3 separate regions of the Homo sapiens genome follow, and all the other regions are linked to region 2. The links come from fine-mapping of genetic effects on gene expression. A gene starts in region 2. Each other region holds a variant in brackets. All regions are shown on one strand. Distances are between the middles of the regions.

Region 1 (10,169 bases), 81 kb before region 2:
TAACATTCATAATTTACAACTGAAGAGTGTGAGATAGATATCAAATGAACAATTTCATTAATGAAATCAACTCAATTAGTTTTATTATTAGATAGCAGTTAAAACAGTATTAAATAAACAGTGTTAGTTTAGTTTTAGGTCTCTGCAATGTGCTGCTGGTGGTCTCTGTGATTTCCCTCAGTTCTGAATGTAAAGCACTGTTGCTTAAAATAGATCACTTTGCCAGATACCAGATTCTTCTGTGGACTAACCCTCTACCCCTTTAAAAATAAAGCAATTAAGAGAAATAAAAACCTAAACTGATCCTTTCAAATAATAAGGATTCAATTTGTCACATGATGTTTATCATGTACAAAATTATTCTTTTTTGCCCTGGTTCCTTTGATCCTTTTCTGAGACTTAGGACTAGTAAAACTAAAAAGATAGGGGTTATCCTGTAAGGAACCAAGAATCTATACTTCTGTAAAAATTTCTATTTCCTCAATAACTTAAGATCAATTGCAACTGATGATGACTATAATGATAACCAGCTGACATTTACTGAGAGACTACTATGTGCCAGGTCCTATGCCAAGCAGTTCTTACATGGTTTTTCCCATTTATTTCTAATAATAACCCTACATAATAATCCCCATTTTACTTATGGAGAAACAAACTTATTTAATATCACTCAGCAAGAAAGCGGCATAACCAGGACTCTGGTTTGTGTGACCGGAAAACTCGGTTCTTAATTTCTCATGAGCACACTGAATCTCTCTAAAAAGCATGCACACACACACCCCCTCTGTGGGAAGAAACATGGTATACTTAAACCCAGTTCATTCTACCCTATGAAACTGAGCTCCCTGGGCCAGGCGCGGTGGCTCATGCCTGTAATTCCAGCACTTTGGGAGGCCGAGGAAGGCGGATTACCCGAGGTCAGGAGTTCGAGACCAGCATGGCCAACATAGTAAACCCTGTCTCTACTAAAAATACAAAAATTAGCTGGGTGTGGTGGCAGGTGCCTGTAACCACAGCTACTCAGGAGGCTGAGGCAGGAGAATCACTTGAACCTGGGAGGTGGAGGTTGCCATGAGCCAAGATTGCGCCACTGCACTCCAGCCTGGGTGAAAGAGTGAGACTCTGTCTCACAAAAAGAAAAAGAAATTGAGTTCATTTTATGAAAACGTAAAGCAACTTTAATTTTAGCTTTCTAAATTCTTCACTTTCAGATATCCATATTTGGAAGTAAACTAGAGGATACAAAATAATTTAAATAAAATGCTTCTTCAGGAAAAAAAAAAAAAAAAGGAATTCTATATTCTTTTTCTGCTCTGGGACATTCCAGGGGCCTTAGCAACAGGAACAGAGTGTGGAATGTTGTGGCAACAGAAAGAAATGAAATAATGTGTGTGTGAGAGACAGTATGTATGTTCCTAAATATTTTAAAGCATAAATTCACAATCAACCCGTCTGCAAATTAAAATAGGGATCTTGCTCAAATGCTGTGAAAAGCTTGATTTACAACAGAAAATAAAAATATAAAATTAATAAAAATGAATTCATTATTCAATTAAAAAGTTTACAAAATATACTTGTAATATACAACTTAGGCCATTAATTATGTACTTGAGCATAAAGTTTAAAAATTGTACTTGAATTAATGGATTCTAAACGAATTTGAAAGAATGGATTTTATTGTTGTGTAAGCCCTAAATCTTTCTCAGGATTTAGGTCACCCCTATGTTCCAATTAGTGAGTGGGCCAGCACCCACATCTAGGCCATCATGTACTTTGGAGACCCCAGGCCAGCATACTAGGGAGGATTAGGTTTAAGCACAAGGACACTTGAGCACATGTATATGGAAACTTCAGTCACATGCAGAATGAAGTCCCTCTGCTAGAAACCATACCCCAAACTGTGGTGAATGTATTTACTTTGGTGTTGCTATCTCCATTTTGAGGACTTTGTTCAGTAACAAGAAAACCTGAATGGCACTGCAAAGCATTTAACCTGCCCAGTACCCTGCGTGTCTCCCTTTTCCCACGCATCCCAAACTTCTACATGCCACTCACAAGTTTCTATCTCCAGCCCCGACTGCTCCCAAGCTCTGTCTAGTTTCACGTACCAGACTGCCTACTAGACATTACCATCTAGATGTCTTATATACATTTCAAACAGAACAAGCATGTCCAAAACTTCACTCTTGACCCTTCTCTGCTCCTCACCCAACAACCTTCCCCATTTTGGGTAAATGATACTATTCATCCCCCAACAGCTCAAACTAAAAGCCCAGGTGTCACCTCCAACTCTCTTGTCCCTCAACACATTCAGGCCACTAGCACACCCAGTTAAGTTCTATCCTAAAATCTTCATCCACTTCTCTCCACTGCCATGGCCACCACTATTGGGCCTGCCACCAGCACCCTTTCAATGAACTCTGGAAGAAGTCCCCTAAGTAGTCTACAAACCTTTCCACAAGGCTGCCAGAGTGATTCTTTAAAATTCCCCACCAGATCACATCACTCCCCTGTTTAAAATTCTCCAGTGGCTTTCTACTCCTCTTGGAATAGAACTCCAGCCCTTACCCTGGCTCCCAAGGTCCTGCCAGATATACCTGCACTTCCCTCTCATCCTCTGTTCCCTCGTTCCCCACTTCTCTCTCCTTGGCTCACTCTGCTCCAGGCACACTGACCTCCCTTCTCTCCTCAAACCCAGAAACCTTTTCCCCAGCCAGACTCTATGCTTGCACTTCACAAGATGCCTGGTGTATTCTCACACATCAGGTCTCAGCTCAGCTGTCACCACTTCAAAGGGCTGTTCCTTCCCCCTCCCCAGTTAGTTACTATCACTGGCATTTTAAGCAGAGTGGCTAAGAGTGTGGGTCAGTATCACTCTGAATCCTGGTTCCCTCAATCAAAAGAAACGTGACCTTGGGCAAGTTATACAATCTCTTCAAATTATCACTTTTTTTTCCAGACACAAGGTTTCTGTCGCCCAGGCTGGAGTGCAGTGGCACAATCACAGCTCACTGCAGCCTCAATCTCCCAGGCTCAAACGATCCTTCCACCTCAGCCTCCTGAGTAGCTAGGAGTAATCACAGGTGTGCACCACCACGCCCAGCTAATTTTGTTTTATTTTTTGTAGAGACAGGGGTCTCACTATGTTGCCCAGAATGGTCTCAAACTCCTGGGTCAAGTGATCCTCCCACCTTGGCCTCCCAAAGTGCTGAGATTACAAGTGTGAGCTACTGCGCCTGGCCAGCATTTTCTTCACATATTGAACCGTGATGACCATAGTACCTACTTCACTGGGTACTTCAAAGGACAGAAAGACTAAGAGAGCTACTACATGCCAGTCTTAGAAATGCACCTGGCCCTAGGAAGTGCTCACTCAATGTTTGCCCACAGTCTATGAGATAAAAGTCATGATTGTTATTTGTCAGGAAACTAAGGCACACAGGATTGAAATCTCACAAACTAGTATATAGCACACCCAAGGTTTAAACCCAGGTCTGCTAGACTCATAACACCCCTGGCAATTTCCAGTATTCTCCCAGAATCACCTCCTCTATGCCAGTGCCACTCCCACTGCCAGTGCCCAAGGTCAAGGTATGGGGCCTCTACTCACCTGAACAGGTCTCCTAACAAGGCCACAGTTTGTTCCTCTTACGTAGCCTCCTCCTCCCAGCTGCCTGAGCCCACAAACTTGTAAAGCAATAATACCACTTCTCTACTTGAAGACCCCTGCTGGCTTCAAAGTGGGGGTTGGACTCTGGACCTACTGCTCTGCAACAAGGCGCCTACCTAGCATTCTGGTCCCTCCCATCTCTCCAGCCTCAGTCAATGTGATTCTGCCTCAAGTCTCCTGTCATTCTCAGAACCTGTCTTGTTCTCCTAAAATTCCTTTTTTTTTTTTTTTTT[G/TG]AGACAGAGTCTCGCTCTGTCGCCCAGGCTGGAGTGCAGTGGCACAATCTCGCCTCACTGCAAGCTCCGCCTCCCGGGTTCACGCCATTCTCCTGCCTCAGCCTCTGGAGTAGCTGGGACTACAGGCGCCCACTACCATGCCCGGCTAATTTTCTTTTTGTATTTTTAGTAGAGAACGGGTTTCACTGTCTTAGCCAGGATGGTCTCAATCTCCTGACCTTGTGATCCTCCTGCCTCAGCCTCCCAAAGTGCTGGGATTATAGGCGTGAGCCACCGCGCCTGGCCCACAATTCCTTCTTTTGGACAGAACAGCTCCTACAGCATAGAAAGCTCTTCTCTCTGCTCTTTCTACAATTCCCACCGTTCGACAAGAACTAGCCCCAATGCCCTCTCTGCTAGGCTCCTACTCATACCCTTTATGCCTGCCATTTCAGCCCTTCACTCACTGATTTATGATTTATGAATAAAAATTTACAAATGGAAACCTCAGTAGTCCTGTCTGGACAGCAGACTCTTTGCCTTGCCTAGCACAATACCTGAGAAGTTCCCTATCACTGTGTGTTTATGAAGTAAATGACTGGCATTTGGAACTTTTCTGTAGCTTTCAGTTGCTCTTAGGATAAAAGCAATGATCCCTGACCTAGCCCACCAGCCTTGAACAGCTTGGCCCTGCCTCTCTGCATCTGGTTACTCTGGCCTTGGTTTTGTTCCTGAACTACACCACACTCTCGTCACAGAATCCTGTGTGGTACTTGCTGCTCTTTTTGCCTGGAACTCAGTTCCCCCAGACCTGTACCTGGCTTGTTGCTCTACTTCATTCGGTCTTAGCTTCAATGTGGCTTCCCCAGAGACTTGGCTAGGTAGGGCTCCTAGCCAAGCACTATCTCCCATTTGTAAACATTCATCCAGCTGTGCAAGCCTTAACTTCCTCCCACTAGACTACATTCCATATCTATCTTGTTGACTGCTCTGGTGGCAGTGCCTAATGGTGCCTAACCTGGCTGACAGAAAGCAGCAATGAATATGTGCTAAATATTACTTGATGAATAATAATTGAAAGATTAAGTCCTTGTGATGCCACCGTAAGTCAGAAGGTTATAATTGTGCTTTTATGTCATTTAGTGACACATGGTCATCATCTGCTGGAATTGGGTATGCCATTCAGTGACAGAGAAGTTCAAGTTCAATAGTCTTCCCTGAAAACATTTTATACCTAGAGGCAGTTTCTAGTAAAACTTCTGTATTTCAATGTCTGATTCTCAAATCTGCATGTTGACAAATTCTTTTGTGCTAGTGAATCCAGCACAGTAGCTAAAAGCAGTTCTGCAGTGAGACTACTTGTATTCAAACGTCTACTCTTCCTCTTACTAGCTATGTGAGCATGGTTAAATTATTTAACCTCTCTGAATCTCAGTTGCCCTGTGTCTAAAATACAGTTAACAGGACCTGTGTTTCACAATACTATTGTGAAGACTGAATGATCCATGGAGAGCGCTTAGTACTACTGATAGTAATCACTCAATAAAGTTAGCTCAAGAAAACAAAAACACAGGTTGGGTGCGGTGGCTCATGCCTGTAATCCCAGCACTTCGGGAGGCCGAGGTGGGTGGATCACTTAAGGTCAGGAGTTTGAGACCACCCTGGCCAACATGGTGAAACTCCATCTCTACTAAAATTACAAAAATTAGTTGGGTGTGGTGGTTTACACTTGTAATTGCAGCTACCTGGGAAGCTGAGGCAGGAGGATTGCTTGAACCTGGGAGGCAAAGGTTGCAGTGAGCTGAGACTGCGCCACTGCACTTCAGCCTGGGTGACAGAGCAAGATTCTGTCTCAAACAAACAAACAAACAAAAAACAAAAACCAAAAACTAACAAAAAACAAAAAAAAACATAACTCACAAAATTGATCCACATTAGAAATGTTTGTCTCAAGGTCCCCGGCTCTTACTAATTAACAGAAGTCTGGTCTACAGTAATCCCCGCTTATTCATGGTTTTGCTTTCTGAGGTGTGAGTTACCTGTGGTCTGAAAATATTAAAATGAAAATTCCAGAAATAACTTCTAAGTTTTAAACTGCAAGCCATTCCGAACAGCAGGATGAAATCTCGCACCATCCCACTCCATCCTGCCCAGGACATGTATCATCCCTTTGTCCAGTATATCTACACTGTCTACACTACCTGTCCATTAGTCACTTAGTAGTTATCAGATCAACTCCTGCTATTGTAGTACTTGTGTTCAAGTAATACTTATTACTTAATAATGGCCCCAAAGCACAAGAATAAAAATGCTGGCATACTGTTATAATTATTATTATTTTATTATTAATTATTGTTGTGAATCTCTTCTGTGTCTGACTTATAAGTTAAGCTTTAACATAGTTATGTATGTACAGGAAAAAACAGTATATATAGGATTCAGTACTACCCTCAGTTTCAGGCATCTACTGGGGATCTTGGAAAGTATCCCCCGCAGATACGGGGGAACAACTATATACACCAATTAGCAACTGACTATTTCACAATGTGAGCTTAACTCTCAAGTGGTCTTGTGCTCCTACTGCTGGCCACACACTCCTCCCTGAAGGCCATGCAAGGGAGAGGTAGGGGAGGCATGCTGGGGCTCCAGCAGCAGAGGGCCAATACTGCAAGCCAAGGGCAACCTACAACTTTTAGCAAGGAAACCACAAGATCCAGAAGGTAACTCTGCCATGAATGTGTATTGACCTAGGTAAGGAAGGCAGCTCCCAAAGGCTGATGCAATAGAGTGAGACAGGAAGAGACTATACAATGAAAATGAGTGAAACCAGACTGAAGACATGGTCTAGAGTACCCTGCAAAGAGCTCAGGAGACCATGGATGTGAGGCTGAGGCAGAGGAAGGAATCCAAAGATGAGTCTGTAGTTTCTTCCTTCTTTACTGCAGCTAATATAAACACATGAAGGGTTAGGCACAGAATAGAAGAACTCAAGTTGTGTTCAAATCCCAGCCCTGCCACTTACTAGCCTATACCTCAATATTCTCATTTCTAAATGGGTAAAGTCAAAGTACCTACCTCACAGACTACTAGGAGGACTACACGAATATATGTAAATGCTTCAAATAGTGCCTCCTACACAGTAAGTACTTTGGAAATTCAAGCCATTTTTATCATCTTCTCCACTGTCGTCCTTTGGTCTCTGAGCTGGCCGTGCTTACCAGGGCCCACTCTACACTCCCCCTGCTCCCCAGTAACCACAGTGATACTTTTAAATCATAAATGTCATCAGGCCCAATTAATCTCCTCAGTGGTTCTACAATGTAGTCAGAATAATAACAAATACTGGAGGGTCCTGCCTAACATCGGCAACCTCAAGACACACTGCTCTCTTCGAACTCTCCGCTTTGGCATTCTGAAATCCTTGACAATTATGCCAACCCCACTTCGGGCCCTTTGCTAGTTCTGTTCCCTCTGTATGGAATGCTTTGCCTGCCTGGCTCTAGGCTTGAGCTCACATTTCATTGGAAAGACTTTCCCTGAATACCCAATTTAAGGCAGGCCCCTGTGGCTTCACACAATTCTCTCTTGTCACTCAGTTATTTCTTATTTGTGTTGTGGCTATCTCCTTCATTAAGATTTAAACTCCATGAGGTCAGGGGCCACAAGTACATAGCACAGTACCTGACACACAGGTTTTCAACAAAAAAATTTGAGAATGGCCTCTGGAATAAAACTGAGTTCAAATCCCAATCCTATCACTCATTAGGAGCATGACCCTTGGGCAAGTTACTCTGCTCAGTATACTCACTTGTAAAATAGAGATTATAGCAGCAACCTTAAGGGTAGTTATGAGGATAAAGAGAATTACCACACATAAAACTTTTGTAACTGTGTTTGGCATGGAGCATGTGCTATGTATGTAATACTATTACAATCATTTCTATTTTTACTATCAGTGGGATACACTAGCCACTGCTTCAATCTCTACTGGTCTGTAGCCACTACCTCTTGTAACACTATGTATTAAGTACTTAATGGGTGTCAGTTATTGTGGCAGGTATTCTAAATACATCATTCATTCATTTATGCACTGAATAAATACATGAATGGCTACTCTGGCTAGGCACTATTCAAGGTATTGGGTAAATATATCGGTGAACAAAATTCACAACCCTACACAAAAGAAAAAAAACCCTGCGAAGTGTTGATACGTATAACAAAAATAAAACAGTTTACAATTATGGAGTGCCTCCTGTGTTCCACGTACAATGCTAAGTATTAACTCATTTGACTTCTCAGGGTCAATAACCTACTTTATAGAAAGCAAGTGAGGCAGCACAGAGAGGCTGTGTGCCTTATGTCACAAAGTCAGTAAGCAGAGGAGCTGGGATGTGAAGGTAGGCTACTCCAAAGTACATGCTCTTTACCATCTTATTAGATGAGCTCCTCCACTACTCAGTGCCCTTCTTGAATTACTCTCCACCTCTCCCAGGAAATCCCTGCTCTTCTGTCTCATTTCATGAAAAGTCAATCAAGCTGTTCCTATCTGCCAGCAGACTCCTGCGGGTACCTCTGTACTGTCTGCTCTCACCGCTGCTCATAGGTTTCCTGAGATGCTAGGACTCTCGGCTCCATTGTTGGATATATTTCTAAGAAACCAGAGAGAAGAGGAAGGCTGGTCTCCACGTAACAGGTTTTACTACAGTCAGTTCCAAATTTATTTCAACAGGTGACTCTCAATAGTCGGTAATCAAAAGTAGCATCAATGATATTTTTAAAGTTTTAAATTGCTGTTAAGTGAGCTTTAGTCTCAAGTAGGAAAGGAAAAAGGTAGAATTTTATTTCCACCTTCCATAAGCACAACTCCCAGATTCATATTGTCTACTCCAATAATTAAAGATAACTGGATTTCCCTTTGACCAAAAGATGTCAAATGATGGAACCAACGAGAGACCAATCAGCAAGCTACTAAATGTATGAGGTCTGGCCCTGCGTAAACCAAAGCAGTCAATAAATACTAGATTTAAAGAAAATAAAGTGAGATGTTTCAAGTAAAAAGCAAGCAACAAAAACCACAGCAGCAGTCCCCAACCTTTCTGGCACCAGGGAACAGTTTCGTGGAAGACAATTTTTCCATGGGACTGGGGCAAGGAGAGAATGGTTTCAGGATGAAACTGTTCCACCGCATATAATCAGACATTAGTTAGATTCTAGGAGCACACAACCTAGATACCTTGCACGTGCAGTTCACAATAGGGTTCACACTGCTGTGAGAATCTAATGCCACCGCTGATCTGACAAGAGGCAGAGTTCAGGCGGTAATGCTCATTCCTCTCTCTCTCCCAAACCCCCCACCCCATAGCCTGACTGCTAACAGGCCACTGACAGACTGGTGCTGGTCCACTGCCCAGAGACTGGGGACCCCTGCACCAGACGACCAAGGAGCTAGAAAGATGAAAATATTCCTAATATTAATTACTCACTAATTACAAATGGCCAATATTATCAATAGTGACCCCTAACAGGTAAGAGTTACAGTGTTTACATTGTCATTGCTTGTACTGAAATTGAGATAAAATGCTGGGGATAGAATAGAGTAGGCAAATATCAAAATCCTGAGGAACCTGCGTTAGGAATGGCAGGTGGGGCTACAACAGTGACCAACATGGCAGTACACACGACAGGTTTGTCTCACGGGTTCCTTAAGCTACTCCTCAAAATACTGTCAGCAAATCCTGACCTCTCAAGTCAGAAAACAAGCTTTCAATGCCATGTGTCCCAAATCTGGAAGTGCCTACCAAAAACCTTATAAATCTTGTCTGCATCCCTACCATTTGGACAAGCATGTAGTCTAGAGTAGGATACGGGCTCTAAGAGTCTACCACTTAGCTTGGTTTTGTAATCTCCAGCAATGTACTTAACCTCTAGGCACATCTAGGCATACAGTTTCTACATTTGAAAATGATAGTATCAACTTTAATGGACTGTTGGACGGAATGAGATAATTCATGTAAAAAGTTGCGGTCTATATCTGTCTAAACACAGTAAGCAGAGTGTACACATAAGGGCTCGATAAAGAACAGTGTTTATTTTGTTACTATTATTATTATTGTGGTTATGATTATAATCTCATGACTCAGTTAAGAATACCATTCCTTCTTTTGTTCATTGCAACACCACATCTGTCAGGTATATTGTGTAAATTCCATGGCTCTCATTCAACTTAGAACAGAATTAATTATGAAATGGCATTGGCTACTGACCTGTCTTTACGTTTTTAAATGGTT
Region 2 (10,169 bases):
CCCTGGGAGGCAGGAGTTGCAGTGAGCCAAGATCATGCCACTGCACTCCAGCCTTGGCAACAATGAGCCTCTGTCTCAAAAAAAAACAAAAAGAAAAGAAAAGAAAAAGATGTATGATATCTCCTTCTAAAGATGAGAATGTAACTGTCTTCAAAATGGCTACCACTTTCTGAGTACTTACTAGGAGCCTAGGAGTAAGCAAAACTTTTTTGCATTTATTATCCCATTTAATGGTCATCTCCTCTAGACTCAAAGAAGGAGACTGGACCAAGTTGAACACAACCAGAGAGCTCAGGAAATGAGAATCAAGGCCATATTCAAAGCCTAAAGGCTGTGTTCATAACCATTTCCCAACCCAAGGGCAGAAAGCATAAATGATCACCACGAATAAATGACAGGAAAGGTTAAGACTATAGAAATAGTAGAAGCAAGTTTATTTTTATGGCCATAAGCATTATACAGTATTTTATTTACGTATCTCACACTTTCTTTTGACTCATAATGCCCTCTCTTACTTCAGCATTTAAAGTAAAATATGATTCAGTCCTGCCAGACCCTTTCCTATTGACAAAAATCAACACAGGTACCCAACTGTGAAGGCATTTTAAAGACAGCAGAATTAGACAACTAAAGTTATAAGTGTAACTTCCACCCATGAAGTCCCTGGGTTACCTGTGAAGGTCTCAAAACGAAAGGAGTGCTGAAGCACTTTTAGGGGTGATGGACTATAAAGTACATGTGCAGTATTTTAGTTTTTTAATTCAGATTATAAGTGAAGAGAAAATGTTAAATGGAATCTTGCCCACAGAGAGAAATATAATGCTGGTGGGTGGCTATCATTTCTTCCTGCCCAGCAGCATCCATGTCCTCCCCTCTGCCAAATAAACCATCATTTTCCACTTTCCTCTAAATATCTATATTTGGGGACCACTCAATCCTAACTCATTTTTGAAAATCTTTTTCTTAAAAAACAATGTTTTAAGTGTTAATATCTTCATCACACCAATTTGGAAATAATGTACTTATTATCCTATACCATGAATATACATGTTTCCTCAGATGTTTATTAATGGTTCCCCAAACCTGGCTTGTAAGTCCTTCTTGCGGGCCAAAGAGGAGCTAAGACTTTTATACGGGAAACTTCTAGCTAGCCTCCCAACAACTCTACTAGTTAGCCATATCCAGATGAGTAACTGAAGAGTCAAGCAGGGTAAGTAGCTACAGTGAATAAAGGAAACCAAATTTGAATTTTAAGTCTATTTTGACTCAAACTGTGTTTTTCCCATCATGTTCTACTGTCCTGCCAAGGCACAAACACATTTTCTTACAATGATTCCCTTTGAGTCAAATTTCAAATTTTCTGGAGAGAAGAGAGTGGAGCTGAAAGACCCATTTACTCCAACGGCTGGTGTCAAGATCAAATCTTTGCTTATCTACCATCAAACGATCTGGTCTGAATTTTTAGATATAATTTTTTAAAAACACAGCCACAGTACATGCAGGACTAGCACGTCAGACCAGCTTGGCTTATCAACTGATAGGCAATGCTTTGTTGTGGGAATAAAATGGAAGTGCTTTTACACCTCTAAGTCTGAAGACAACTTTATTTATTTATTTGTTTGTTATTTATTTATTTATTTCAGTGTCTTACTCTGTTGCCCAGGCTAGAGTGTAGTGATCTCGGCTCACTGCAACCTCAGCCTCCTGGGTTCAAGTGATTCTCCTGCCTCAGCCTCCTGAGTAGCTGGGATTACAGGCCACACCACCACGCCTAGATAATTTTTTTTGTATTTTTGGTAGAGATGGGGTTTCACCATGTTGGCCAGGCTGCTCTTGAATTTCTGACCTCAAATGATCCACCCGCCTCGGCCTACCTCAAATGATCCACCCGCCTTGGCCTCTCAAAGTGCTGGGATTACAGGCATAAGCCACTGTGCCCAGCCTGAAGATAACTTTAAAAGGCAAGTAACGAGCACACAGATCTACTTTTCAAAAATGTTTTTTTCTCTTTAGAATGGTCATTCTGTGATGGCTCATGACTGTAATCCCAGCACTCTGGGAGGCTGTGGCAGGAGGATCACTTGAGCCCAGGAGGTCAAGGATGCAGTGAGCCAGTTTCATGCAATTGCATTCCAGACTGGGCAACAAAGTGAGACCCTGTTTCAAAAGAAAAAGGAAAAAAGAAGAAAGAAAAGAAAAGAATTCTAACTTCCATTTTATTCAATAAAAAGATGTGTCTCTAATTTTTTTAAGTCCTGGATCTCTTTTCTAAAACAACTACAGACCCTCTTCCAGAAAAATACACATACACAAAAAGTTCTGGTCACAACTACAGGGAGTTCAGGAATCCCTTGAAACCAACCCTTGGAGGGTCACAGACCCCCAGGATAACTCTTGCTCTAAAAGCATAGTACAAAATTCCTTACATTATTTCACAGACCCAGAATAAAGACCATATATAGCTAGCTCTCTCATAATTTTTTATATTTTCAGAAAGCAAATATCAAATAAACACACAAATTTTCTTAACTAGTCTTTCATATTCTCAAAAAAAAAAAAACCCAGAAATCTTATGACTCAAATAAATCAATAAATATAAGGTCATACAAGTTCAAAGTCTGAATCAGTTTTCTTAAAATCTGCTACTTCCATTTCTGTGTTTCTGCCCATAAAGATCTGTCTTGAAAAGAAGAAACATTAGTATGGTAAGGGCTTGAGTCTTTGCTACTTTAACATTCATCAACATGTTAATATGTAAAAAGAAGACCACTTGTAAAGTTTACTAAAAGATGTTCTCTCATATATATGAGATATACGATATGATGAAAAGACAATTCTTAAATGTTCAATGAATAGATCTGTGTCAATGCAATTGCAAGTAAAATCATGTAGCTGACAAAATAGATTTTAGAGTTCATAAAGGCTCAAATTATGTGTTTCCCACCACTTGAGTCAAGAACTTTCAGGCTGGACACAGTGGCTCAAACCCATAATCCCAGCACTTTGGGAGGCTGAGGCGGGAGGATCGCTTGAGCCCAGCAGTTTGAGACCAGCCTGGGCAACATAGTGAGATCATGTCTCTACAAAAATAAAAATAAAAAACTTAGCCAGGCATCATGGAACATGCCGGTAGTCCCAACTAGTTGGTAGGCTGAGATGGGAGGATCACTTGAGCCCAGGAGTTCCAGGCTGCAGTGAGCCCTGATGATCGTGCCACTGCACTCCAGCCTAGGCAACAGAGGAAGGTCCTGTCTCAAAAAAAAATAAAATAACTTTCAGGAATGTTTATTTTCAGGTACAGCTCAAACTTTAAAGTCTTTCAAATTCCTCTTGGTCTTATTACTCCAGAAAATTTCTAGCATCATCCAACAAAATTATAGGTTATCAAATTAACTTATAGAAATGTTTGAACAGCACTCCATTTATGAATAACTCAGAGAGTATCTCACGAAAATTTAAGTTACAGGGGGCAGTGATACTTTCCCATGAAAATATTACAGATTATTTTAAATCACTGACACTGTTTCAAAATCAGTATTATGATAAGATTAAGAAACACTTAAAAAAAACTTTTCACCACATGACAATTACTTTCTTTTTTTTTTTTTTTTTTTTTTTTTTTTTTTGAGATGGAGTCTCGCTCTGTCGCCCAGGCTGGAGTGCAGTGGCGGGATCTGGGCTCACTGCAAGCTCCGCCTCCCGGGTTCACGCCATTCTCCTGCCTCAGCCTCCCAAGTAGCTGGGACTACAGGCGCCCGCCACTACGCCCGGCTAATTTTTTGTATTTTTTTTTAGTAGAGACGGGGTTTCACCGTTTTAGCCGGGATGGTCTCGATCTCTTGACCTCGTGATCCTCCCGCCTCGGCCTCCCAAAGTGCTGGGATTACAGGCGTGAGCCACCGCGCCCGGCCGACAATTACTTTCTAAACAATAACTATCCCCACCAAAATGCAACTTGGTATTGTGAACCCCAATCAATTGACAATTTCAGTTTACAATCTGTAGTACTTAAGATTTAAAACAATTCTTCTCTTAGAGTGCCCTGTCTCCTAAAACCAAGGAAATGAACAGGGTCTGATGATGCCCACCTACAGCCAGCGTTTAGGTCAGTATTTTTTCAAAGTCGGAAACTTCATACCTTAGGGGAGAGCAAGTCACATCTCAGAATCTTCATGTAAAGTAATTTTTGTCTTTGTGACAAAAGTCAAGTTCTTGAGCACTAATTCTTGAGAGCACTGTAATGGTATTATTGAAGTCACTGGTCTCACATAATATGACTAAAATTGTACATATTTCTTGCTAGAGGTTAAACACACTTCACTTTAATACATTTGCATCTGCAACTTCTCCTCTTTGAAAGAACTGGGGGAAAACAGGGAGAATGTACCTAAATTTAGTAAGGAAAGTGAAACAACCAAGTTTATCCTACACAACTTCTTCATCCCGGATATGAAGATGCAAGATCTACTTGGGGGACAGGAAAATTGGAAAACAACGGTATGGCTGAATAAAATAACAAACCTGGGTTCAAAATGAGACACGATCCTGGTGCTAATCGTATCTATCCCACTGGAGGTCAAATCAGCTGCACTGGTGCCTGTTTCCTCATCCACCTCTCACCACCTAAACGTGCCATTTACGAGAAAGCTATCGAAGTTGAATCAAAGTGACTTTTGGAAAGAGATGCCAATATAATTTGCAGTGTGCTCCAAACAACTACACACAAGGCAACGTTTCTCATTGAGCACCCCCGCCCCCACTTTCAACTTCCCCTTAAGATAGGGACAGTCACATAGACATTTTTTGAAAATCAAAGAGAAAAATAAAAGCACCCCATCACGATCACCGACGAAATCCCGACTCTGTGGTGGAATTGGGTGCCGGGTGAGGACGATGGCAACACGCTCCTGGTCGCTTCGCGAACTCCTCCGGGAGGTCGCCAAGTTTCTCTTTCACCCTTTTTCCCGCACCCGCCGAGCCCAGGAAGGAAGGGGGCGGCCGCAGGGGCCGGAACCGCGCGACCTGGAACCCGGGGCCTTTTTTGATTGCCGGCCGCGCCCCGCGCAAGTGCCGGCGTTCGAGACCCGCCCCAGCGCGCGTGGGCGCCAACTTCGCGGGGACCCCCAGCGACGCGCCCCCCTCGGTACCCCTAGTCCCGCCTCTCCTGGGCTCAGCCGGATCCGGGCGTCCCCGTCACCCTCCCCACCCCCCAGGGAAACGAGCCCACCCCTAGCAGCGTCACCCTGGATGGGGCGGCGGGGCCGCAGTCACCTTCCCGGGGAAGAAGCCGGGACCCCGACTGCGGGCGGCCCGCAGCTCCCGCCGCACCCCCGCAGCCCTGGCGGCGTCCGGGCGAGCTCACCTGGCGGCTGGCTGCGGCCTCCGGGGCGGCCTCTGGGCGTGGGCCGGGCGGGGGCTGCAAGGGGGGCGGCGGGAGCCCGGGCTGCAGCCGGGGCCGCCGCCGGCCGCCAAGCCTCGCCCCAACTCGCGCCGGCCGCGGCCGCCCCCGGGGAGTACCGGGAGCGCGGGGAGCGCGGGTCCCGCGGCGGCGGCGGCGGCGGCGGCGGCGCGGCGCGGCGCGGCTCAGGCGTCGGAGCAGGCGGCCGCGGGCGCCGCCGCCTCCTCCTCCATGGCTGTTTACCCGGCTGCATTGTGGGAGTTTGACCTCCGCCGCCGCCAACCGCCGCCTCAGCTTGCGCCGCCGCCGCCGCCGCCGCCGCCGCGCACGCCATGGGAGCCGTGACTGACGGTGAGGCCCCGCTCGCCGCCACACGCGCCCGCTGCACGGCCCGCTGGGCCTCCCCTGAGACCCCTGGCCTCCCGGCCCGCTTCCGGGAACCCCTCGGCCTCCCCGGCCTCTTCGCCAGAGCGCTTCGGCCTTCCCGACCTCTCCCCGGAGCCCCGGGCCTCCCCGGCTGCTTCCCTGAGTCCTTCCTCCTCTCGCCAGAGCCCGAGCGCCCCTCGGAGACCCTCGGCTTTCCCCGTCCGCTCTCCCGGAGGCAGCGCGGGGCTATAGGGTGTGCCGGGAGCGTGGTCGGTGGGCTGGGAACACACGTGGGTGGCCGAGACGGCTAGAAGCGGTGCAAGGGCGGGTGGGACCAGAGGGAGTCCGGGTTTGTCTAGGGGCGCGGTGAGGACCCAGGAGCCGCGAAGGGTGGACAGTGGTGCCGGGCTTAGGGCTGGGGGCCTGGAAGGTTTGTGGAGGTCTGGGAGGGAGTGGGAGCTCCAGGGACGGGGCGGGAATTTCGGGACTCGTCTACAAGGGGTGTCAGGATACAGAGCGTGACACCAGGAGGGGTCCTGGGGCATATTGGGAAGCACTCACAGACAGTGGAGTCGATGGCAATGAGGCCTTGAACTGCGAGTGGATTGTGGGTGAGAAGGAGGAGCAGGGAATTATTTATAAAAGGAATAGATAGGGATGAGGTATCCGGAGGGTGATCAGGAAGTGTACCTGGGAGATTTACGGGGGTAAGGAGGAGCCAGTATAGTGATGAGACCGTCTAGGGTAGATCAGGACGATAAAAGATGTATGTGTGTGTGTTAGGAAGGGTGGTTGTCAGCTGGGATGAATTTAGAGGGGCAAAGGCTGGGTTTGTGGACAGTCTAAGGGAGATGGTCTATGGACTGAGAGCGGAAATAAGGTGACACTTTGGGGGAAGGGGCATGATTGGCAACTGGAGGGAGAACCTACAAGGTATCTGGTTAGGGAGGAAGGAGGTCCTTTGATATCTGGGAAGGGGATATCTAGGGCTCTTGGGTGTTTTTCAGGAGATGGTGACCGGTAACTGTAAATGCCTGTGGAGAGGCCACTTCTTAAGAGTTGAAGACCACCAGGGTCTCCACATTAAAGGGCCTGGCCATGGGAAGAACAGTGATAGGCCCAAATTTCCAGACTGATAAAGAGTAGTGGAGGTGGGAGGCTACTAAAGACCCAGGAACTTCATGTGGAATTTCAGCTTTGCTTCATTCCAGTTTCATTTATTTAGTGGATATTTATCCTTCCTGGACTAGGCTTTGGGATTACAACCCAGAACTAACAAGCAAGAACTTTTCCCTCTCCAAAATTTTGGTCTGAAGGGAAAGAAACATTGACTAATGAGTTTTAAGAGTGACAAATATTACCACAAGGAAGTACAAGGTTGGGAACTGTAGGAACATGTAACAAAGATTATTTATCCAATCAATGGAAATGAGAAAGCCTCCTCGAAGTTAATCCCATTTTTGAAGAATAAATAGATATTGGACTGGTGTTCTGGGTTGGTAGCCACTTGTATAAAGACCCCAAGATGTTGGAAGAACTCAAAGCTGACAAGTATTGCTAGAATTTAGAAAGTTATGAGCCAGAGATCTCTAAGGGCAATAGGAATCCATTAAAAGTTTTAACACTGGTGTGGTGTTAATCAGATTGGCATTAAAACACACACACATGCCGGGCACAGTGGCTCACGCCTGTAATCCCAACACTTTGGGAGGCCAAGGCAGGCGGACCTCTTGAGCTCAGAAGTTCAAGACCAGCCTGGAAAACATAGTGAGACCCCATGTCTACAAATACAAAAAAATTGGTCTGGCACAGTGGCACACACCTGTAGTCCCAGGACTTGGGAGTCTGAGGAGAAAGGATCACTTGAGCCTGGGAGGTTGAGGCTGCAGTGAGCCAAGATCGCGCCAGTGCACTCCAGTCTGGGTGACAGAGTGAGACCGTGTCTCATTAAAAAAAAAAAAAACACACACACACATACACACTGTCTCTGTTATGTGCAGAATGATTAGAGGAAGAGAAAATGAGGAGCTAAGTTTCCTCGCCACTTACTAACGTTTACGTAGTGCTGTTAGGTATTATTCTAATTGTTATCCCCATTTTACAGATGAAACAGACACAGGTTAGCTTGCCTAAGGTCGCACAGATAGTAGTTATAGAGGGTCAAAGGCAGGGAGACCACCTGCCGAGTTCCTGCTCTTCACTATTATGCGTCCTGTGTCTGCTACTTCTGCAGTGGCCCTGGTGAGAGACAATGAGGACTGTGACCAAGAGGGAATGCAAAGAGGACAGGTGGGAGGGAAATAGGGAAATTTGTGAGGTAGAATGTCAGGACTTCAGGTATTGAATGGATGGTGGGAGAAGGGATTTAGGATGATCCCAGGTTTTTGACTTCACTGTGTGCCTGTTAGTGCTACTTTTCTATTTATTGAGATTGAGATGTCCAAAGGAGCAACAGGCTTTGTCAGATGGGAGATAGGGACAGAAGATGAGTTCTAAAGTAATGACTGCAGTCAAGTGCCCCCCCACATCCTTAAAAGCCACAGGAATCTCTACCCTGCCACTTACAGACTGTCTCAGCTTCAGTCTCTGAACGGAGATAATAATAAAATCCACATCAGCGGATTGTTTTGAGGATTAAACACAAAAAGTTGTAAAGGGCTTTGCATTGAGTCCAACACATAATAATTAATATTCAGTAAATATTAATGTCAGAGTTGTTTTACTAATCTGTCTTCCACTTTCCTTTGATGTGGACTTTGCCTTCTCTCTTAATCTGCACAGGTTGCCTTTTCCTGCCTTTTCTATCAGGTGACACTCCACTTATTCCTCAAGACCCACCTCAAAAATCCCCTCTTTTCTTTCCTAGAAGTAGTTGACCTTCTGCCTACTAGCCATATTATTTTATGCATATTGCTGCTGTCACCCTTAATACGTTATTTATATGCCTTATGCTAGAAAACATTTAAGGCAGTTCACTGTAATGAGAAAATATAAAAATTAAACGGATTAGAAAACAAGACAAAAAGAACATTGAGATTAGGAAAAATAAAGGGAAGTCAGAAGTGGGGTGATCCTCAAAATGCAGGAGGATAAAGTCTAGTACATTAATTAACCAAGCTGTAAGTGACCTGTTTCTCCAGTAGGCCATTCTGAGAGGCAGGACCTCGTCTGCTCTGTGATCTAGTGTTCATGAGAGAAGGCAATCTTAGATGCCCAGGAAAAGCACTTTTTTTTTCTGATTTGAACTAGAGGAAAAGTTTATCATTGAGGTCTTTATAAATGAAAGCCAGTGTCATATCCTTAACCTCTTTTCAGCACTGAAGATCATAGAGCTGTTTTGTAGCACATCCCTTGCTAGGTAAAAGAAGGCTAAATCACAATTTAGAAAGACATTCTAAAGCCAGTAGAGGCTGGGTGTGGTAGCTCACACCTGTAATCAATCTTAGCACTTTGGGATGCTAAGGCAGGAGGATCACGTGAGCCCAGGAGTTTGCGACCATCCTAAGCAACACAGCAAGACATGATCTATACTACAGAATTTTTCAAATTAGCCAGGCGTGTGTGGTGGTGTGCACCTGTAGTCTCAGCTACTCATCTCTACTAAAAATTTTCTTAAATTAGCCAGGTGGAGTGGAACACACCTGTAGGTAGTCCCAGCTACTCAGGAGGCTGAGGCAGGAGGATCACTTGAGCCCAGGAGTTTGAGGTTGCAACGAGCCATGATTGCACCACTGCACTCCAGCCTGTCAACAGTGCTAGACCCTGTCTAAAAATAAATAAATAAAATCAATGGACAATGTGGTTTAGGTGGGTAGTGGGTAGCTCTGCTGATCTGGCTTGATTCAAATCAGGGTTTTTTGATTGAATATCTAGACCATAGAGGAAAGACAAACTACAACTTCTTCAGACAATCCTCTATAAACATGGTTTTTGTCAGCTGAGCTTTTGAAAAAATCAAGCTGAAATGAGTGGTATGTGTGATCCGTCAACAAGTATTTATTGCATACCTTCTAGGCACAATGCGAGGTCCTGGCTACTTTGCAGTGAACTAGACAGAGGAGGGCCCTGGCCCCTGCTTTGGGGAAAGAAGCCATAGTGTGCAATCAAATAAGTAAATAAGATAATTTCTGAAAAGGAATGTAATTAAGTTCTGAGAATGAACTTGATGGAATGAGGACAGAGAGTAATGGGGGAGGGCAGTGATACCTGACAGGTTCAACCACATGAAGAGCCCAGGAAAGTATTCCAGATAGAGACAACAACTAGTGCAAAGGCCCGAGGTGAAAACAAGCTCTGCACCCTTTAGAGGAAATAAGGAAAGCCACTGGGCTGGATCTAGGGACAGGACTGCATCCAGGTGGGCCAAGAGGAGTACGATGCAAAAGGAGGTAAAAGGGAGCTCAGG
Region 3 (10,169 bases), 180 kb after region 2:
ACTATCTGGTAAGCTGTAATTGTCATATTGATTACATCTCCATACATTATGACCACCACATAATGTGTGTATATTGTTTTTTTCTTTAAACGGTCATTTATAATTTAAAGAAATTTAGAGAAAATAGCCATTTATTGTTTTTGATGCTCTTCATTATTTCTTGAAGCTCTGTTTCATATTGATATTACTTCTCTCCATCCCGAAGAACTTCTTTAGCATTTTTTGTAGTACAAGTCTGTTAGCAGTGAATTCTGTTATTATTTTTTAAATCTGAAGACATATTTTTTTCCTTCATTCTAGAAGGATATTTTTGCTGAAACAGAATTCTGGGATTTTAGTGTTTTTCTTTCAGCCTTTTAAAACGTTCCACTCATTTTTGTCCTCCACAGTTTCTGATGAGAGTCTTTTGAGTCTTGCCTTTCAGTCCCTCTGTATGTAATATATTGTTTTTCTCTGCCATTCAAATAATTTTCCTATATTTATTGTGTCATTTTAATCTTACTGATTCACATTTTTTTCTTTTTTCTTTTTTCCCTTTCCAATATCTTCACTAGGATGTCCCTGGGTGTGGTTTTCCTTGTATATATCCTGTTTGGAGTTTGATGCTTTTTGACTTTGTAAATTTATATATTCACTATTTGGGAGGTCATTTTGGTTAATATTCCCTTAAATAACTTTTGTGGCTCATTTTCTCTGCCCTCTCTAACTGGGACTCCAGTGACATATGTTAGAGTTTTTGATGTTGTGTCACAGGCTTAATGTTTGATGTTGCCCCTGAGGCTCTGTTTATTTTTCTCTCTTTTATTTAGGTTGAATAACTTGTATTGATCTATCTTCAAGCTCACTGAGCCTTTCTTTGTTCATGTCTATGCTGTTGATAATATTAAGCCTATTCCCAGTGATTTTTTTCAGATATTATATGTTTTCTTTCTAGAATTTTCATTTAGTTCTTTTTTATTGTTCTTATTTTCTGCTGACATTTTCTTTTTGATTCATTTTGCATATATTTTCCTTTATTTTCTTTAGCATAGTCGTAATAGCTGTTTTAAGTCTTTGTCTGATAATTCCAGCATCTAGGCAATCTCAAAGTTGACCTCTGTTGATTACATTTTCCTTGATAATATATCACTATATCCTGACTTGTTACGTGTTGTGTAACTTGGGATTGTATGCTAAACATTGTGAATACAGTACTTTGGCAATTCTGGGTTCTGCTATATTCTTCTGAAGAGGGTTGCTGTTGTTTTTGTAAGCAATTAACTTGGTTAGATTCAAACCACAAATTCTCTCTATCCTGTTGTGGATGTGAGAATTTCAAGTTGAACTTCATTTCTTTTAGCTTTCTCTGAAAACTGCTTTGTGTTTGCCCCATGTGTGCATGACTTATTGGTTTCCCAGAGACTTGGGTAGAGTTTGAAAACAGAATCTGGGACTCCCTTTCTTTGGATTTCTCTTTTACAACGTTAGTCTCTCATTTTCCATAAGCTATGGTTGCCCTGAGTTCTGTCATCTGGTTCTTCAGGCCAGAGAAACAATGAGTTTTCTGTTGAAGTTTTGACCACTTTAAGCCAGCAATGACTACAGTCAGCTCACAGGATAGACCCATAAAAATAAGAATCTCACTCTACATCATTCTTCTAGGTTTTGACTTCCTTCCAAAATCTTCCTATTTTGCTCATTCTATACAGCTTTGGGTAGTTGTTTTTGTATTTTTCCCAGAGCTTACAGTTGTTATGTGAGTGTTCAGTTTGTTAGGAGCTTACACTGCCATGCCAGAAGTGGAATTCCAAGTAACTCACCATGATCCCTAACTTCAGAGGTTGTTGATCTGAGAATATATTATCTCATGGTTTGTTCATCCCTATTTTGATTATTTCACAGGGATAAGAGAGAGAGGATGTCAAACTGGCCCTTTAGGGTGTCAGTGGTAAGAAAATAATTGGCAGTGGAAGAAGTGGGGAATGGGGGTGTTAGCTATTTGCCTAAGTAAAATTTGTGTATTATGTATGGATTTCACTTTTCACATACTGGTTGGTCACCTGACACAATTCTGAGAGTTATGCAGGAGGCACCCCTGACTGTCATCTGTTAGCCACAAATAAATCAGAATTGAGCTGCACCAAACATAGACACACCTGATTATAAACAGGATGATTTTTGTAAAGTACACAGAAAGTTCCTACTGATCTCAAACATCTTCCTACATCTAGGCTTGTGAGTGATGTCACACATCTACCATCAGAATAGAGGTTTTTGGCCTGTCGGCCTCCATAATTGTAACAAGACTTTTTGGTTTTGTGCATTTCTTTTTGGGAAGGTAGTCCAGAGTGCTTGTTAGTGCCTCAAAGGTATTTGGGAATGCTCCCCTAAAAAAATTATTTATTATTTGATAAGTGATTAAAAACTAAAGTATCATCACCTTTTATTTGAATTCAAATTTCCTGGAAATATATATCTTGAAACTGTATTAGCTATTCAATAATGAGACTTAACAAGATACTTTTAAAGTGATGTCTGTGAAGCTGCTGGTTTGTATAAGTTCTTCAACACAAGTTTACATTCTTCATTTCTTTTTTATTTTATTTTATTTTATTTTATTTTGTTATTATTATACTTTAAGTTTTAGGGTACATGTGCACAATATGCAGGTTAGTTACATATGTATACATGTGCCATGCTGGTGTGCTGCACCCATTAACTCTTCATTTAGCATTAGGTATATCTCCTAATGCTATCCCTCCCCCCTCCCCTCACCCAACAACAGTCCAAGCCCTGAAGATCCCTAGGAGACACAGGGCAGGAAAATGCTCAGGCATTAGTATCTAAAAGATCTGTGTTCGATTCCAGGCAAATTACTTACTAGCTGTGTTACTTCAGAAAAATTACTGAACCTTTTTGTAACTCGATTTCTTTTTCCTTATAAAAACAGTTATTTATTTATTGTTAGTAATAACACTTGTTTATTATAGAACATTTAGAACAATCTGAAAAGAATTAGAAAGAAAAAAATCAATTGTAGTCCTGAAACCTAGTGATAATTACTACTATCATTTTGTATATTGAGAGACTGAATATACAAATGAACAATGGTGCAATCAGATATAAAAATAGAACTCTGACCCAAAACCTAACAGCAACCAGTTCAAGAAGCTAAACCACAGCCTTTGCAGTAATTGGTCCCAGACTGTCAGGACATGGTCAACGACTGTCAGCTTCCCAATTTGCATCTCTGTTTCCCACTTAGGACAAACCAGAGAAAGCCAAATATGTTCCCCTAACCAGTCACATAGGATGTCCTGCTTCTGGTCAGCCCCATCAAGCTTCCTTGTGCCAACAGCCTCCAATAAAGGCACACCTGAAGCCTTCCCTTTTTTTTCACTGTAAAGTGTTCCCATTCCTCTGCCCGCCTTTCATCCTTTGTCAAATGCAAGTGATGGTGGCTGACTCCCTTGTATAGCAGGCTCTGAATAAATAGACTTTGCTTGTTCTCATTTGGGTGATCTTCAGTTATTTCCATAGTATTATTCTCCATAATTTTGTGTCTAGGGCTATTTATTCATCCTATATATCTTCTATGGATATGTTATTATTATTATTATTAATTTTAGACAGAGTCTTGCTCTGTCGCCAAGGCTGGATCTTGGCTCACTCCAACCTCTACCTCCTGGGTTCAAGTGATCATCCCGCCTCAGCCTCTGGAGTAGCTGGGATTACAGGCATGCACCACCATGCATGGCTAATTATTTTTGTATTTTTAGTAGAGATAGTAGAGATAGGGTTTTGCTGTGTTGGCCAGGCTGGTCTCAAACTTCTGGGCTCAAGTAATCTGCCCACCTTGACCTCCCAAACTGCTGGGATTACAGTTGTGAGCCACTGCGCCTGGCCTGGATATGTTATATTGTGCAGTTTTGCCTTCTGTTTTCTTTCTCTTAGCGATATGCCAAGGTGAACATGTCATGAAATGTCTTTCAAAAATGTGACTTTAGGCTGGGCACAGTGGTTCAAGCCTGTAATCCCAGCACTTTGGGAGGCTGAGGCAGGCAGATCACCTGAGGTCAGGAGTTTGGGGCCAGCCTGGCCAACATGGTGAAACCCCGTCTCTACTAAAAATACAAGAACAACAAAAAAATGTTATTTTAAACAGCTGCATAATAATCCATCTTATGCACATGTTCTTATTTAGTGAAGCTTGATCTGTCGTTTGGCCTTTTAGCCTCTCTTTGCTCATCCATAAAATGCACAGGCTAATATTAATACTACAGGATAGTTGTGAGAATAAGATAAATCAAATTTGCATAGTTTGTAGCAGAATTCCAGACACATGACAGATACTCCATAAATATTATTTCCCCTGTCAATGAAACACTCAAGATGCTTCATCCGAAGGCTCCATCCCTTCTTGCTCTCTCACCCCTCCCCATAGACGATGGGTGCCTTAGCAGACTCCTAGTCTTCCCCACTGGGGTCAAAATAATTCCAGTGCCCAGAGAAGCAATCTGGAAGTCAGAGATCAGATTTCTTAGCTTTTTTCATGGCTAAGAGCTACACAAACTGAGAACTTGGTGATGAGTAAACAAAACCCCAGTAGGGTATTTTCTTGTTGACATGGCAACCTGATCACGAACTGTCTAGGCAGTGCTGTCAGACTGTGCATTTGGGAGACTTTCCCACTAGTACCGGATGAACAATTCTCAGCTGGCGAGGTAGGTGAAGGATGTATAAAAGCACTTGTTCTACAGGCTTCTACAACCAGCCCCTCAGCCAAGCCAAAGTCCCCCTTTGAAGCAGGGTTTAGGGTACACTCTTTATTATCCTCCTA[C/T]AGCCAGAGCAGCTGCTTAACTAAAGGATGTCAATAATATCTGCTTGAAGACCTTTTGTCTTGAATTTTCTGCCTGGCTGGCTTTCAAAGGCTTTCCCAACCCATGCTCAGCCCACTGTTTGAAGGCACATTCTGCAAGTAGAGCCACAGGAAGACACAATAGGTGAGAAACAGCCAGTTGTCAAAAACACAAGCAATTGAAAGACAGAAATCACTTCCGAAGGAGCAACTTACTGCCCTGGGGTCTGAAGCAATTAGATTCACCCCATTCATTATTCCTCCAACTTTAGCAAAAGGGTCTGATTTCTTCCCTGGAAGTCCGGACAGCTGTCTCAGGGTAGCTCTGTATAGCGGTGCAGGTTATGCACTGCACAAAGCTGCCCGACAGAGGAGTCAAATAGGGACTGAGGTCCTGTCTGTACATCACTCACCACTGTGGCATGTGATCTTGTCCTCCCAAAGTGTACGCCTTTCCTGATTAAAAAAGGCCCTGCTGAGGCTGTGTTACTATATCAAACTCTTTTGGAGGGGAGAGCATGGGCAAGGAGCACAGGAGAAGAGGAGAACTTTTTTGCCTGGGCCTCACATTTCTAGCAGGCCTCAAATTTAGACTTTTCTCATGAAGTCAAATTGAATTTATAAATGTAATCACAGAATCGAACCAACAGGATTGAACAAATGAAATTGCTCGCAATATTTATAAAATGATTTTAGGATGTTTGCATTTGCTAGTACCACAGAAATCTCTAGAGTTTTTCACCTCTAGATGCTAAAGGTGCTTGGATTACTCTGAAAGCCCTTACTCTGCTCCCTGGGCCTAGTGTTCCAGCCCTGGATCAATCCTCGGGGGTGGGTAGGGTGGGTGTGGTGAGACTTTGGTTCAGTCACCTTGCATTTTGGGAACTTTTACATGTTTACTCTTGCTGCTCTGCCTTTGACGCTTAGAATCAATATTATGCACAGTACTTTACTGTGTAATAGAACAATCTGTTGAGGTGATAATTTGGGCTTTTTCCTTCAAGCACTTTCCCCTGACCTTCTGCACTTGCCAGGAATGAGTTAGGGGAGGTGTGTATCTTAAACCAAGGATAGGAGTTGTGGGCAAAGGCACTTGCCTTCCCGAAGACCATACCAGTTTCATAATGACAAATACTTTGTCTCATTTACTCCTGAACCTTTGTTACCTGGCGCTTAATAGGTTGGGTGATCAATGCTCTTGGTTTGCTTAGGACTTTCCAATTTCAATACTTAGAAATCCCACATCCCATGAAACTCCTTAATCCGAGGCAATCTGGGATGATGGACAGTCACCTTATAAGGATTTGTTAACCGAATGAATGAATGATGAATAAATGGCCTTTATTTTCAAAAAGTCCACACTCATGAAACAAACTATGTTAAGCTTTTTGAAGATGAGAAGAGGATAGAGCAGTTTGGCCATCTCTGGGATGTGTGCCAAATCTGGCCCATTGCCTATTTTTTTAATGGTCTGAACATTAGAATTGGTTTTAAAACAATGACATGAAGAGGCCGGGTATAGTGGCTCATGCCTGTAATCCCAGCACTCTGGGAGGCTGAGGTGGGTGGATCACTTGAGGTCCAGAGTTTGAGACCAGCCTGGCCAATATGCTGAAGCCCTGTCTCTACTAAAAATACAAAAATTGGCCGGGCATGGTGGCAGGCGCCTGTAATTACAGCTACTCGGGAGGCTGAGGCAGGAGAATCACTTGAACCTGGGAGGCAGAGGTTGCAGTGAACTGAGATTGGGCCACTGCACTCCAGCCTGGGCTACAGAGCGAGACTTCATCTCAAAAAAGAAAAAAAAATGTAAATAATATTATTTTGTGACACATGCACATTTTACAAAAATAGATTTCTGGGGTTCATGAATATAGTGTCATTGGAATGTAGCATGCTCGTTCATTTATGAGTTGTCTATGGCTGCTTTAGCACTACAGCAACAGAGCTGAGTAGCTGTGAAAGAGATAGTGAGGCCTGTGATGCCCCAGCATATTTGCTACCTGGTCCTTTACAGAAAAAGTTTGCAGACGCCTGGGATGGAAGGAGCTCTGTGGACTCCAAGAGAGATCAGAGGTGGAAGGTGAGAGATGGCAGGACCTTCACATTGCGTAGCTGGCAGTACCTCTCAGAGCACCAAGACATCAAACAGTGACTGGACTCAAGACACAGAGCTGTCTGCCTCAGCAAGGTTTCTGCACCCACCAAAGCTGAGAGCTTCTTAGAGTGGGGAGGTGCCACTGTCAGCTGTGACAAAGAGGAAGTTGGCCATGATGGAGGATAGGGGCTGAAGGATGGAAAGTCCTAGATTCTAAAATGACTCAGAGAGATAGGTGCTCAATGGTGACTAAGATGAAATTTCTGCCCACCGTGGTGGGAATAAGCCTTGGAAACTGATTTAAACTGAGCTTCATGAAAACAAAGAAATAGTGATTTCTTACACATCTGAGTGTGTGGCTAAGCCTGGTCACTACAAGTTGTCTAGAGGATTCTGTTGTTGTAAAACTATAGAAGCACAGAATCTGAGCATGTACGGAACCTAAGAAGTGATCTAAACCAAGGCATGAAGGATGAGAACCATGAGCCTGGCAGTTTATTACAGGCCAAGAAAGGAACATTTTCAAAGTCCATAGGCTTGTCTTTGTCCCTGCCCCCAAACTGGTGCAAACCTGGCATATAGTTGGTGCTAAATAAATGCTTAATAAGTGAATAGGCAAATGTTTTCTTTCTCCCTTATAGTAGTCCTCAGAACCTGTTATAATCTGACATGGATCATTTGTAGTTTAATACGAATTTAAGGAAATTGCTATCACACCCAGATGTTTATAGTAAAGCCTTATCTATAACAGTAAAATGAAAGCATATTCTTCAACTGAAGGTATTTAAACGTTAGCAAATTAGTTGGGGAAACTGGAGACCCAGGCTCTTCCAAGGTTCTTGAAATCAGCACCCCAGTAATAATGCTAACAGCTGTTGTGCGTCTATTATGTGTCAGGTTTTAAGAAAACCACACTTTGTGGGCCGGGCGCGGTGCCTCACGCCTGTAATCCCAGCACTTTGGGAGGCTGAGGTGGTCGGATCACAAGGTCAGCAGATCGAGACCATCCTGGCTAACACAGTGAAACCACATCTCTACTAAAAAAAAAAATAGCAAAAATATTAACTGGGCATGGTGGCGGACGCCTGTAGTCCCAGCTACTAGGGAGGGTGAGGCAGGAGAATGTCATGAACCCAGGAGGTGGAACTTGCAGTGAGCCAAGATCACGCGACTGCACTCCAGCCTGGGCGACAGAGCAAGAATCTGTCAAAAAAAGAAAAGAAAAGAAAAGAATACCACACTGTGTGAGTTATCTGGAGTCCTCACATCCTCACATCCTCACAGAAATGCTGCCGGGTGGGTATTCTTACTCAACAGGTGGGACAAATGAAGTTCAGAGAGGGCAATAAGCCACATAGCTACTCTTTATCTTTCTCAGCCTTGTTAGTCCCCAGAGGGAGGTCGGTGGCTGGAAGAAAATGTTTTAATCATCATTTTCCAGAAGAACAGGTTCCCAGAACTATTCTCCTTGCGTTTTTTTCCACATATTGAATTTCTGAACAGTAGCAATTTCGTGGCCAGGACAGACTCTTGCTTGTAGGAGACATACTAAGCGTTTCTCTAGATTGCTTCTCTAGTTATTTGCAGCTGATTTTTTCGCAAATCATCTCTGAAGAAACACAGACAAATCTTTCCTTCATTAGCTTCGTCTACAGCTCCGTGAAGTTTAGCAAGGGAACTGCATTATTTTGAATAATTCAGCTTTCCATCCCAACAGTTCCCCATATATAAGAAAGTACCTGTATTAGAGTACTATGGGCCTGGCTGGCCCCCTTGTTTATATAGATGAAGGTCTGTCTCATGTGGAGTCAAGTTTGGCGATATTTGCAGCAATATAATGAGGTATGAATTGAGGATTAATTCCCAGCCCTGTTACTAGACCTGTTACTGAACAGACTTCAAAATCCAATTATAAATTATAATGCAATATAACATATTTCCAACTCTTACAGAACCTCAGGGACTTGAAGAAATCATTTACCTTGGAGTTATTTACATTTATTGGTTCTTGTTTTCACAATGCCCAATACTTCCAATTTATTATTTCAGGATTCTATTTTTTGCTGAATCCTTGCTCTAATGCTTCCTGTGTTATCAGCTTATGGAAATGAGGAGCTTGTTTTCTATGAGGGGGGCATGGGGGTTCTCTCCGCAAAGGCGCATCCCCAAAGGGAGTTTGTATGGGGCTTAGTTTTTGATTTTAGAATATTTTGGCATTACTGACACACTTAAGACCCAGAGTTTGAAAAAATTAACCATCTTTTCCCCTGAGTATAAAAACCAAACAAACAAAACAAACCATTGTGAACAATGTGGAAAATTTCAATTTGAACATTTAAATGAAAAAAATTAAAATACATATAATTACACCATTCAGTGATTAGAACTATCAATATTTTTGCATATTTATAGGTGCAGTGTTTTTTAGTGTTAAGCACTATGCTGTTTTGCATGGATTGACTTACTTAAGCTTTTCAGCCATTTCACAAGATAAGTAATATTATCCACATTTTCTAAATGAGAAACCAGCACAGCAAGGTTAAGTAATTTGCACAAGGCCATCCAGAGAGAGTTAGAGGTAGGTGTGGGATTCAGACCCACCTAAGCAGTCTAATGCTAGATTTCTGATTTCAGACTCTTCCTTCAACTTCATCAGTGTCATGTTTCCATGTAGATGTACAATGGATGTCATATCAGTGGCTATACATATTTTGTACTTAATGCAGTTACTTATACTGTGTATATAGTTTAGTTTCCCTTCTGGTTGTTTTTTTTTTTTTTTTTTTTTTTTTTTTTGAGACGGAGTCTCGCTTGTGTCCCCCAGGCTGGAGTGCAATGCCATGATCTTGGCTCACTGCAACCTCTGCCTCCCGGGTTCAGGAGATTCTCCTGCCTCAGCCTCCCAAGTAGCTGGGACTACAGGTGCCTGCCACCACGCCCGGCTAATTTTTGTATTTTTAGTAGAGACAGGGTTTCACCATGTTGGCCAGGCTGGTCTCGAACTCCTGAACTCAGATGATCCGCCTGCCTCGGCCTCCCAAAGTGCTAGGATTAATGGTGTGAGCCACCTCGCCCAGGCTTCCATTTTTTACTTATCATGTCATGTGTATTTTTCTCTCCGTTATATTAAGTTGTTTAAAAAAATCATTTTAAATTGTGATTGCATTTTCAGAAAACAAAATATTTATGTCTCACTTCACATCATGTTCCTAATTAAATTTTAGATGAATTAAA

Evidence for each region.
Region 1: its variant is fine-mapped to the expression of THOC7 in whole blood (INTERVAL, PIP above 0.99).
Region 3: its variant is fine-mapped to the expression of THOC7 in lung (TOPMed, PIP above 0.99).

The regions. Positions count from the first base shown.
Region 1 is chr3:63,940,377-63,950,545 of GRCh38, reverse strand. All of the region lies in intron 4 of ATXN7 (ataxin 7), which reads right to left. Among named protein-coding and RNA genes, the nearest start is that of PSMD6-AS2, 59 kb to the left of the region's middle. The variant G/TG (reference allele first, on the strand shown) is at 3,904.
Region 2 is chr3:63,859,352-63,869,520 of GRCh38, reverse strand. It overlaps THOC7 (THO complex subunit 7), which reads left to right and starts at 5,716. Exons shown (of 8, transcript NM_025075.4): 1 at 5,716-5,749. The coding sequence starts at 5,731. ATXN7 (ataxin 7) reads right to left here and starts at 5,654. Exons shown (of 13, transcript NM_001377405.1): 1 at 5,363-5,654. It overlaps THOC7-AS1 (THOC7 antisense RNA 1), which reads right to left and starts at 8,876. Exons shown (of 2, transcript NR_104326.1): 1 at 8,525-8,876; 2 at 7,702-8,022. RefSeq lists silencers at 4,978-5,197, 5,208-5,447, 5,778-5,997.
Region 3 is chr3:63,682,479-63,692,647 of GRCh38, reverse strand. No RefSeq gene overlaps it. Among named protein-coding and RNA genes, the nearest start is that of SNTN, 35 kb to the right of the region's middle. RefSeq lists an enhancer at 3,538-5,496. The variant C/T (reference allele first, on the strand shown) is at 4,820.